2 separate regions of the Homo sapiens genome follow, and region 1 is linked to region 2. The links come from fine-mapping of genetic effects on gene expression. A gene starts in region 2. The other region holds a variant in brackets. All regions are shown on one strand. Distances are from middle to middle. Region 1 overlaps XPC (XPC complex subunit, DNA damage recognition and repair factor). Region 2 holds the start of XPC-AS1 (XPC antisense RNA 1).

Region 1 (5,224 bases), 20 kb before region 2:
TTCTAGGGAGTGTGATATGTCTGCCAGTTATTGTTACCATGCCACATACCCAGGCTTACTACCCTGTGACCTCTCAGAGGGCTGGAACCATGTGGGGTTCCTTTTCATATGCCCTGTAGCATCCATTGCAGGCCCTTTTATTTGGCAGAAACTGAACAAGTATTTTTGCAATGAATGAGCATTTATATTAATATGTTGTGAACAGTGATTATGAGCCCAGGGAACACTTGATTTTCTGCCTCCTAAGAAAGTTGAGGGGTGGGGAGAAGAGGAAGAACAGAGGGATAGTTTTTCATTTGCTTCATAAACAAATCCTCACTGCCAGTATCAGCTTTTCCAGCAGCCTCTAGTCCTGGGATGGGAGAGTAGTCCAGTAGAGGGCACAGGAAGGGACACGGGACAGCATGATGATTTTCCGCCATGATCCATCTCTTCTCCTTTTCTCTAGACTTCCCTTCCCGTCCCGCCCCGTCCCGTCCCCATCCCGGTCCCGTCCTTAATGGAGTCTCGCTCTGTTGCCCAGGCTGGAGTCTAGTGATGCAATCTTGGCTCACTGCAACCTCCGCCTCCCAGGTTCAAGTGAGCCTCCTGAGTAGCTGGGACTGTAGGTGCCCACCACCACGCCCAGCTAATTTTTGTATTTTTAGTAGAAACAGGGTTCCACCATGTTGGTGTCGAACTCCTGACCTCAGGTGATCTGCCCTGCTCAGCCTCCCAAAGTGCTGGGCTTACAGGCGTGAGCCATTGCGCCTGGCCTTCCCTAGACTTTTCTGAAGAATACCTCTGAACTTACTGCTTTCCAGTTGCCTCCCCTCACTAGTTGAATTCTATCTCCAGAGACATATACATAGAGATAGGCCACGATACTGCCAAGGAAAGCTCTGGGTCCCCCTTTCCCTCTCCCCTGAGCATTGACTGTGGTCATTTCTGCTATGTTCATTCTAAGGGGAAATTTTTATTGCTGGTGTTTTGAGAGAAAGTGGTACTCTAAAAAAAGAGTGTATTATTAGAGCTCAAGATTGATGATTGGTTATTTTAAATGTTTATACCAAAATCCTAGATAATATTCTCACTTGGTACCAAGTGCCAAAGTTTACACAAGTTAAAAGTAACTGGATACTCTAGACACATTTTATATATGAATTTGCAGAAATATATTACGTATCAGCAAGTACTTAGCCTTGAGCCATTGTTTAGCCAGCTACTTATCTATGTTATTATCTACTTAGCTAGCTAGCTGTCTATGTCTCTTGTTATTTATGACTCACCTATGTGTAGTTACATCCCTGCTTGAAGTTAGAATGCTATGAATTTCAGTCTCCTTACATCATATTTCTTAAAGATGGAAAAGAAGTCTGAGTAGGCTTATAGTAGGATATATAAATGGAGATTTTATTCTGTTCTTTCTGGCCTCCAACTGCACATATATCACACAGATATCACAGTTCTGGAACTCATTATTATTTTGGTGTCTTCTAATTTTTCCTTGTCATGTCCAGGCACAGCTATGTTTTCTTTCACACGATCTAGATTGTAGGTTTTTTAACAGCACATCTGGTAGTAATTAGACAGATGATCAGAGCACATCTTGATGAGATTTGGAACACATGTTGATGGAGGAAGTGAGGCTCAGAGCTTACTAATCATCTTTAAATAGTTGCAACAGATTCTCAATAAATAGGAGGGGTTTTAAAAATTCCATTTAGCTTGAATGGAACACTAGGATGTCTGAGTCTTCTTCATCTTCCTTCCTGTGGTCTTTACACAGGGACTTTCCAAGTGACCTCAAGAAGGCACACCATCTGAAGAGAGGGGCTACCATGAATGAAGACAGCAATGAAGAAGAGGAAGAAAGTGAAAATGATTGGGAAGAGGTTGAAGGTGAAACATCTTTCTTTGTTTTCAGAACTGTTTGGTTCTGTTTGTTTTTTTGTTTGATTCTGTTTGGAGTCAGATCACTAATTGCAATCCTTTTGTTTTCTTTTGAGCTAATTAGACCACAGATAAGGTTGTACTAGGGACTTGCTTTGATATATATGGAAAAACTCATGGCCAAGTTACCAAAGAAGGCTGTTTACTCTCTTCCTCTGGTGACTGTCAATGGGGTAGATATAAATAGAGAGGCAGCACTATTTAGGAGAAGGAGCACAGGCTTTGAAAGTAGTTAGAATTGGGTTCAGTGCTCAACTTTGCCACTTAGGTGGCAGTGTGAGTGAGTAATTTAATCTTGAGCAAGTAACTTCACCTCTCTGAACTGAGTTTTCTCATTGGTAACACTCTGTAAACACTGAATGTTTAGTGTGAGCCATTCACAGTATAGGCTGTAGGATTATTGTGGGGAAAAGAAAGTTTGCAAATGTAATGGGCCTAATGTATCATACACTCACAGTAAATACCAGCTAATGTTATCATCCCTGATTCCTTCTGTCTGGCCTGACTTTTCCTCACCTTTTTATTTTGAAAGTGTTCAAATTTATAAAAAGAGTGAAAAATGTAATATATGTCCTTCACCTAGGTTCATTAACATTTTGCCACATTGAATGTATGTTTCTCTCTGTAAATATTCATTGTGGAACCATTTGAAAATAAGTTGTAGATATTCTGATACTCCACTGCTGAATACTTCAGCCTGCATTTCCTAATAATTAGACATTCTCCTGCATGACAAAATGACCTCATCACACCTACGAAAATGAAAAATAAGTCCCCAATTGTTA[T/C]GAAAGCATCCTTTATGCCTGTTTCTTTTTCCATACCAAGATCCAACCAAGCCTTGTATTTGGTCTTTATGTCACTTTACTCTCTTAATATAGAGCAGTATTTCCCACCTACCGCCTTGTTTTGCTTTTCATAGCACTGCCTTTTTTGAAGGATCCTAGTCTTTTGTTTTGTAGACTGTCTCATGTTCTAGTTTTGTCTGATAAACAGTCACACATCTCATGGTGGTGTTAAACTTGTTTCAATATCCCCTGTATTTCTTGTAAACTAAGTCCAAAGACATGTAATTTTGATTAAACTTTTATTTTTTTTCCAAGAATCCTTCCTAGATGATGCTTTAAACCTCATCTTGCATTGATTAAGCCACCTCTAATGTCAGGTTGTTCCTCTTCTAGTCATGCTACCTTTAAGCTAGCTGTACTACCATGTCCTTTTGACATGGCCTCATTAGTCTTTGAGAACATTTTTGTTCAGCTTATACTTTTCTTGCTGTAGACTTGAAACCAGCCTTTTTTTCTTCAAGAAGCTGTGGTTCATTTTAATAGAGATTCATGTATAGAGACCAAGATCTGGCATTAGATGCATTCTTTGCCAGTAAGATGTCATGGCTTCTAGGCCCAGAGCCTCTTTTAAGGAACTTTTGCTAATGAAGTTTTCAATTAGATCCAGTTCAGCAAGTTCAGTCCTTCTCAGCTACTGTATACAAGCAACGTAGGGGGTGAAGAGATGAAAAGGATATATTTTTTGTCACTTACAAGTTTATAATTGAGAATGAAAGATGGACACCTGAGTCATGACTCTATACAAAGCAAATTGTGCTAATTGTTATTGTGGTAATACAGAATACAGAGAAAAGGAGATTATTCTCACTTGGGTTTTTTTTTTTTAAAGAGTTTTAAGTATATACATACATGCATGAGTGTCAGCTTTTTGATAGAGGGGTCTGTATCTGATTCAACCCAGTATCTCTATGCTTTAGGTTCTTTATCTAAAGACTGTCTGGGTTGTGTGGGTTAAATGAGACACACGAATATATAACACTCAGCACACTGCCCGGCACATGGTAGGACTCAGGGCAAGGCATGTCTAGGGGTCTCTGTGGGCTGTCTCCCTCACATTCATGCCTCACTTCCTCCTTCCCAGCAGAACCTTGATTCTGTTCAGTACAGTAGCTATTATTATTGTTATTACTATTACTGATTTTTAAAAATGCTTGTTGATAGAACTTAGTGAGCCTGTGCTGGGTGACGTGAGAGAAAGTACAGCCTTCTCTCGATCTCTTCTGCCTGTGAAGCCAGTGGAGATAGAGATTGAAACGCCAGAGCAGGCGAAGACAAGAGAAAGAAGGTAAGCTTAGGCCCTTGCTTCTAGGCTCCTGTCACATGCAGTAGGCAACAGCTGCTGCTTAGGAGGACTTTGGAGAAACTTGTAGGGGACCAGGACTGAGTATCAAAGTGGTCGAGAACCTTGGGTCAGGAACCTGATTTACCTTTAGAGACTTGAATGAGACACCTTCGTGTCCTGGCTGGGGCTGGTGAGGGATGAGGAGAGGGAACTCCTGTGTGCCAAGGATTGAGCAGGTCATCCGTTATCTTACCTAATCCTTAGAACAGTGTTGTGAATGAGGAGCTAAGTAACGTTCAGACGCTAAGTAACGTTTCAAGAGTCACTCAGCCAGTAATGGAAGAGCTGAGACCTAATCCTTCTCATTGACTTGGCATTCACATTTTCCTCACCATGTCATGCTGCAGGACTTGAGGCAGTGCCCGCCGTGGTAGGGAGCCCCTATCCTTCCCAGCATCCCGGAGTACCTCTGCAGCCTCTGATGGCTTGGGAATTCCAATGTGCGATGGGCACATTACTAGGCACAGAAGAGGGAGATAATACAAATCATTCAAGAAGTGTCAAGTTGTCTTGAAGATTAATGGGATACAGACTGAAAAAGAGATTTTACACTAGAACAGTGTCACATAAATGATGGTGTGTTAATTTAACATTAATAAAGGTAATGGTTGCTAAGGAGAGAGTCAGTAGTCGGAAGAGTTGGACAGCCAGAGAAGACTTCCTGGAAGAAGTGAGCTTTGAGGCATGTAGGTGAGGTGTGATCTGCTGCTGGTTGAGAGGAGGGTTGTCTGGGTACAGAATGTCCCAGGCCGAGGTTTGCTGGTGAGAAGGAGCCAAAGAGCCTGCAGGAAATAGCTGGCTTGCAGACGGACTTGAGTAGCACAGCCTTGTGTAGGGAAACAGGGAGAGTGATTCACTGTCATCCGAGGAGAAGGAATTGCCTGGGGGAGTGGAGTCTGGTTTCAGTTCCCCCCTTCATTCCCAGATTTTTCACTATTTGTTGCAGTGAAAAGATAAAACTGGAGTTTGAGACATATCTTCGGAGGGCGATGAAACGTTTCAATAAAGGGGTCCATGAGGACACACACAAGGTAAGGGCAAGGAATGATGGGGAAGGACTTTTCCTTGTCGGTGCAAAGAGCTTGTGCTCACCGAGGCTTTATTT
Region 2 (5,487 bases):
TTAGCTTATTATAGTTGGCTTCTCTGCAGCCTTCCTTTGGGTTCACTGCCCCCTCCTGGACACTTCCCTCCCCCACATGGTGTTAACAGCAGATCAGAGCCTCAGCAGGTGTTCGCTTGGTGGTGGTAGTAAACGTGAGTGTGCCTGCGCACAGCGGCCTTTACCCCATCCTGATAGTCTGCAGCTGGAGCTCTCACAGGCTCTGGACAGCAGAGGAGAAGAAAACCTATGAAGGGGAGGAGTGGTGGAGGCAAGGCACAAAGGCTGCAGATTAGGGTTTGTAAGTGGACACATCCCCCAAAAGACAGGCAGTCCACGTTCAAGGCTGTTTGCCTAGCACAGCTTCTCTGGGCCCCCTAGGAGCTCGGCCTGCTCCAGGGTGGCTGAACCTGAGGAGGGAGCCTGCAGGGCTGCGCTCTCCACTGTCCCGCATTCCCGCAGTGGGGCTGTGGACTGAGTTACCTTTGTGTCCTGTGTTGGTTCCACAGGGATTGTGTGCACACTCTGCATTCCAGGGACACGTGGCTGAAGAAAGCAAGAGTGGTGAGGCTTGGAGAAGTACCCTACAAGGTAACTGGAGCTGGGGGGTCCCTGTGGGGAGTGGTGACACAGGCCTGTAGCTGAGCGGGAGAGCTGGGGGCAGAGAAGTGATGATGAGCCTCCCAGTCCTGCCCAGGATCCTGATCAGAAATGTCTCACTTTCCCGGCTTGAGCAGGATTCAAGGAGGAGAGAAACATTTAAATTGTCTTATTAATAAGACATTTGTAAGAAATGGATCTTCCAAAACACAAAAGAAATCTAGGCCAAAAAGTAGGCCTCAGACTCCTGTTGTGAATTCAAAGGTTCTACAGGTTGGAATTGAGTTACTGGGTCCTGGGAGGTCAGAGCCCTGCTTTATAGCAGCACGTTCTCCAGTCAGATTGCCCTTCTGTTTGGCAGTTCACTGAGCATTTTGCATGTATGTGATCTCTGTTGCCTCAAAAGCCATAGGAATTGGCATTATGATGCCCATTTTACAGATGAGAAAACTGAAGCTCAGGGCAAGTGACTTGTCCAAGTCCCCACAGTTAGTAAAATGGCAGAGCAGAGCCCAGGTGAGAATCCCAGGCTCTGCCTTAAAGCCAGTGCTCCTTTCACACTGTGCTGCGGCACTGTTAGGCTGGTTGCTCTTGAGGAACACGAACCGAGCGAGGTCCCACAGAGACTATTCACAGGACACACAGCTCCGTACGACCGGAAGTGTACAGTGGCTGATCACAGAGACCATTTACTTCTCATCAGACCCCAGGAGTCCTTGGGGGTTGCAAGACTCCGGGAAGCTGAGTGGGGAGTGGAGGGGCCTCCGCTTAGTGGGAAAGGCTGCAGGCGCTGGTCACAGTCACTGCCAGCAGCAGGCTGGAGTGGGCGATGCCCCCTGCCTGGGCCTGCAGGGTTGCTGAGGATTTTCTCTGCACCATCTCACCTGTCTTTTGTGCTGGAACCAGCATAGCAGTGTTCAGTTGAAATGTAACGTGAGCCACACATTTAAATTTTTTAGTAGCTACATTAAAAACCAAAAACAGGTGGAATTTTAACATTAAAATATATCCAGATATATCTAAAATACTATTTCAGCAGTAAGAAATATTTTAAAGTGTTGATGAGATATTTAAATCCATTTTGTTCCTAAGTCTCTCTAATCTTCTGTGTATTTGACTTTCTGTACCTTAGTTCAGACCAGCCACGTTTCAGGTGTGCAGTGGCCACACGTGACTGGTGGCTGTCATGGTAGCACAGTTCTGGAATCCCAAATCTCTCAAATTCACCCCTTGTTCTGATCCCCACCACCCCAGCTCCTGCCTCAGTATCTTTTGCTTGGGCAACAGCCACAGCCTCCTTCCCAGCCTGAATCCATTCCCCTGTCAGTCACTAGGCTCTTTCTGTGCATCTTGGCCATCCTTGTCCCACCTTGGCCAGCGCCTTTAGTCTGAGTCCCGCACCCTCCCCATGGTGCACAGTGATGTTCTGGTGCTCACTGCCTCTGCATTCCAGAGGACTTAGGCCCCAGGTCCCAGTGTTCTCCCACCTCTGTGCCCTGTGGGGTCCAGCCCTGTTCTCTTGGGCAACCCCTTGCCCCTTTAAGCCTCTGCTCAGGCGGGACCTGTTTTGAGCAGCCTTTCTTGCCTCCACTGTCCTCAGGGCTGGGCAATGGCTTGCCTCTGAGCTCCTGTTCCACCCTGTACTCATCACGCTGAGTCGTAGCTCTGTCTCTTCCCCTGCAGGAGCCTGAGCTCCTAAGAGCAAAGACTGTCCTCGCTCCATCCCTCCTTCATGACTGGGTCATGGCCTGGTCTCCAGGAGATCCCAGTGGAAGTTTACTGAACAGTGTGCTGGGTGAATGGCTTCTCAGAAAGGGACGGTTGTCAGAACTCAGAGTCCCTCTGTCCCTGAAGTGGTGACAGAGAGGGTGCGCCCAGAGATCATGGCAGGAATGGACATGAGAGCTCGCAGGCCACCCCCAACCTGGGGAATGGCTTTTCACATTTTTAAAGGGTTATAAGAATGAGAAGAATAAAGAATATGTGATGGAGGCCACGCATGACCCTTTACAGAACAAGCTTGTGGGCCCCTGCACTAGAGGAAGTCTGTATGCTGAGGCCCAGGGGCCAGCCCTCAGCCGCACGCCCATGCCTGACTCCTCTAAGAGTTACGTGACTCTGTCCTTGCCTGTCCTGCGCCCCTCTCACCACTTCACTCCCCAGGGAAGATCTTGGCCTTGGCCACTGCACGCTGTTGGGGAGCACACTGGGAGTCCTGAACTGTCAGTGCTTTCTAGGGCGTGTGAGCAGACATAGGTTATATGTTGAGACACAGGCTCTACTGATGGACAGTTACCTGAATTGTAAATCCTGGTTCTTGTCACTTACCAGCCATCAGCTCTTAAGTGACTTTGTCTCTCAGTCTCAGTCACTGCTATCAGTGATGACAGCACAGAATATAGGCTAGTGGATGAAAGTGTGGGCTCTGGCCCTTACGAGCTGTGTGACTTTAGGCAAATCATTTACCCCGTCTGTGGTGTTCATCTGTAAAATGGAAACAATAATAAGACCTACCTTGTGGGTTTGTTGAAAAAATTAAATAATAACATATAAAGCACTGAAGATAGGCTGGGCGCAGTGGCTCATGCCTGTAATTCCAGCACTTTCGGAGGCCAAGGCAGGTGGATCATTTGAGGTCAGAAGTTTGAGACCAGCCAGGCCAATATGGTGACACCCCATCTCTACCAAAAATATAAAAATTAGCTGGGCATGGTGGCGGGTACCTGTAGTCCCAGCTACTCAGGAGACAGGCACGAGAATCACTTGAATCCGGGAGGTGGAGGTTGTAGTGAGCTGAGATCACACCAGGGCACTCCAGCCTGGGCAACAGAGTGAGACTCCGTCTCAGGGGGATAAAAAAACAAAAAACACCGAGAATAGTGTCTGGGACAGAGAATGTTCCATAAATGTTAGCTAGTGCTTGTAGTAAGAAAAGGGGAGCAGCCGGGCACGGTGGCTCACGCCTGTAATCCCAGCCCTTTGGGAGGTTGAGGCGAGTGCATCACCTGAGGTCAGGAGTTCGAGACCAGCCTGGCCAACATGGTGAAACCCCCGTCTCTACTAAAAATACAAAAATTAGCCGGGCGTGGTGGCAGGCACCTGTAATCCCAGCTACTCAGGAGGCTGAGGCAGGAGAATTGCTTAAACCCAGGAGGCAGAGGTTGCAGCGAGCCAAGATTGCACCACTGTACTCCAGCCTGGGCGACAGAGCGAGACTCTGTCTCAAAAAAAAAAAAGGGAGAAAAAGCACCCCAGCTGGTAGGTGTGTTCTGAGGGTTCACCAGGTACCAGGCATGCGGCACTGAGCATGGTGCCTGGCCCGGTGCTGAGGAACTGGATGCCTTTGTTGTAAACGGTGGCCGTGTCCTCTGGTGCAGATGGTGAAAGGCTTTTCTAACCGTGCTCGGAAAGCCCGACTTGCTGAGCCCCAGCTGCGGGAAGAAAATGACCTGGGCCTGTTTGGCTACTGGCAGACAGAGGAGTATCAGCCCCCAGTGGCCGTGGACGGGAAGGTAAGGGCAGCATCAGAAGGGCTCAGGACCAGGCCGCCTTGTTCCCCTGCTGGCCAAATGCTGACTTGCTCACCCGACACAGGTGCCCCGGAACGAGTTTGGGAATGTGTACCTCTTCCTGCCCAGCATGATGCCTATTGGCTGTGTCCAGCTGAACCTGCCCAATCTACACCGCGTGGCCCGCAAGCTGGACATCGACTGTGTCCAGGCCATCACTGGCTTTGATTTCCATGGCGGCTACTCCCATCCCGTGTGCGTGAGGGGCCTTCGATGGAGGCTAAACACAGGGATGGGGAGGGGTGGCTCCAGAGATGGGGATGGAAAGCTGGCATGGGGCTGCTGGGAGTTGAGGCCTGGTGGCTCCAATTTTCAGGATGTTACACTGGATTTGCAAAGTCAGTGCTTTACCAATTCTGGCTTCCCTCCAGAGGGAACGGAGCCAATGAAACTGGCATCGTAATGCTGGATTAAAACGTTCTTCCCAGGTTTAGGGACTCACAGGCTAGTGAGCAAAAAACAGTCAGCATCTTTCCCCGGCAGCTGCCTGGTTAGTGAGCTCTGTTCCATGATGGGTGAGGCTGGATAGGGGCTTTCACCCCAGCTTTCTTCGGCAGAATCTGGGGAGGAAGAGGCAGTGCCAGCTTCCACAGGCCTGCCTTCTGCACGGAGGATGTGGGACACTGGCTGACCCGCGACATCCTTCAGGACCCCTAGTGCTCAGATGTGGCCCACTGTCTTCCACAAACTGGGGAGGGAGGAGAGGCAGAGCAGGCAGCAGGTTCGAGGGTTGACATCGCGTTGTGTCCCCACAGGACTGATGGATACATCGTCTGCGAGGAATTCAAAGACGTGCTCCTGACTGCCTGGGAAAATGAGCAGGCAGTCATTGAAAGGAAGGAGAAGGAGGTAAGCGCATATGCAGGACTGAGGGACAGCAGAAGCGGGAAGCAACACTCAGCGGGTGGCCTCTTCCTTCCCCAGGCCGCCTCCGTGTGCTCCCAGGCTCTTCCCAGCCCTCTCTGACATCATGGCAGGCACCCGAGGGAGCGAGCACTGAATACAGCAGGCTCCTGCCCACCCCGCAGACTATCACTGTCCCTGAGGAGCCTGGGTCCGGGCTCTGGGGTCTACTGCCCCTGCTGCCCACACCTGCCTCTGTCTTGAATTGCCTGTGTCCAGGTTCTGGAAGACCTCACCCACTAAAGATTTTGGAGTCAGTAACGATTAAAAAGTTATCTGTTTTTGTGGCTTTCAGGTATAGTATATCACTTTGTAAATCAGATCAATTTTTTGGAAGTGAGACTTGGTGTGAAGGAGAGGCTATATTCTAAAGTGGTGTATATATCTGTCTTTACATTCACAGTTTCCATCTTAATATTTTTCCTGAAAATGTCAG

The links. PIP is the estimated chance that this variant, and not a neighbour inherited with it, causes the effect.
Region 1: its variant is fine-mapped to the expression of XPC-AS1 in tibial nerve (GTEx, PIP 0.91).

What each region holds. Positions count from the first base shown.
Region 1 is chr3:14,167,095-14,172,318 of GRCh38, reverse strand. It overlaps XPC (XPC complex subunit, DNA damage recognition and repair factor), which reads left to right. Exons shown (of 16, transcript NM_004628.5): 3 at 1,769-1,881; 4 at 3,939-4,062; 5 at 5,066-5,150. Among named protein-coding and RNA genes, the nearest start is that of XPC, 8.9 kb to the left of the region's middle. The variant T/C (reference allele first, on the strand shown) is at 2,718.
Region 2 is chr3:14,147,418-14,152,904 of GRCh38, reverse strand. It overlaps XPC-AS1 (XPC antisense RNA 1), which reads right to left and starts at 3,343. Exons shown (of 2, transcript XR_001740603.2): 1 at 3,303-3,343; 2 at 1-3,063. It overlaps XPC (XPC complex subunit, DNA damage recognition and repair factor), which reads left to right. Exons shown (of 16, transcript NM_004628.5): 11 at 489-570; 12 at 3,957-4,091; 13 at 4,174-4,343; 14 at 4,904-4,997. RefSeq lists enhancers at 1,550-2,050, 3,668-4,352.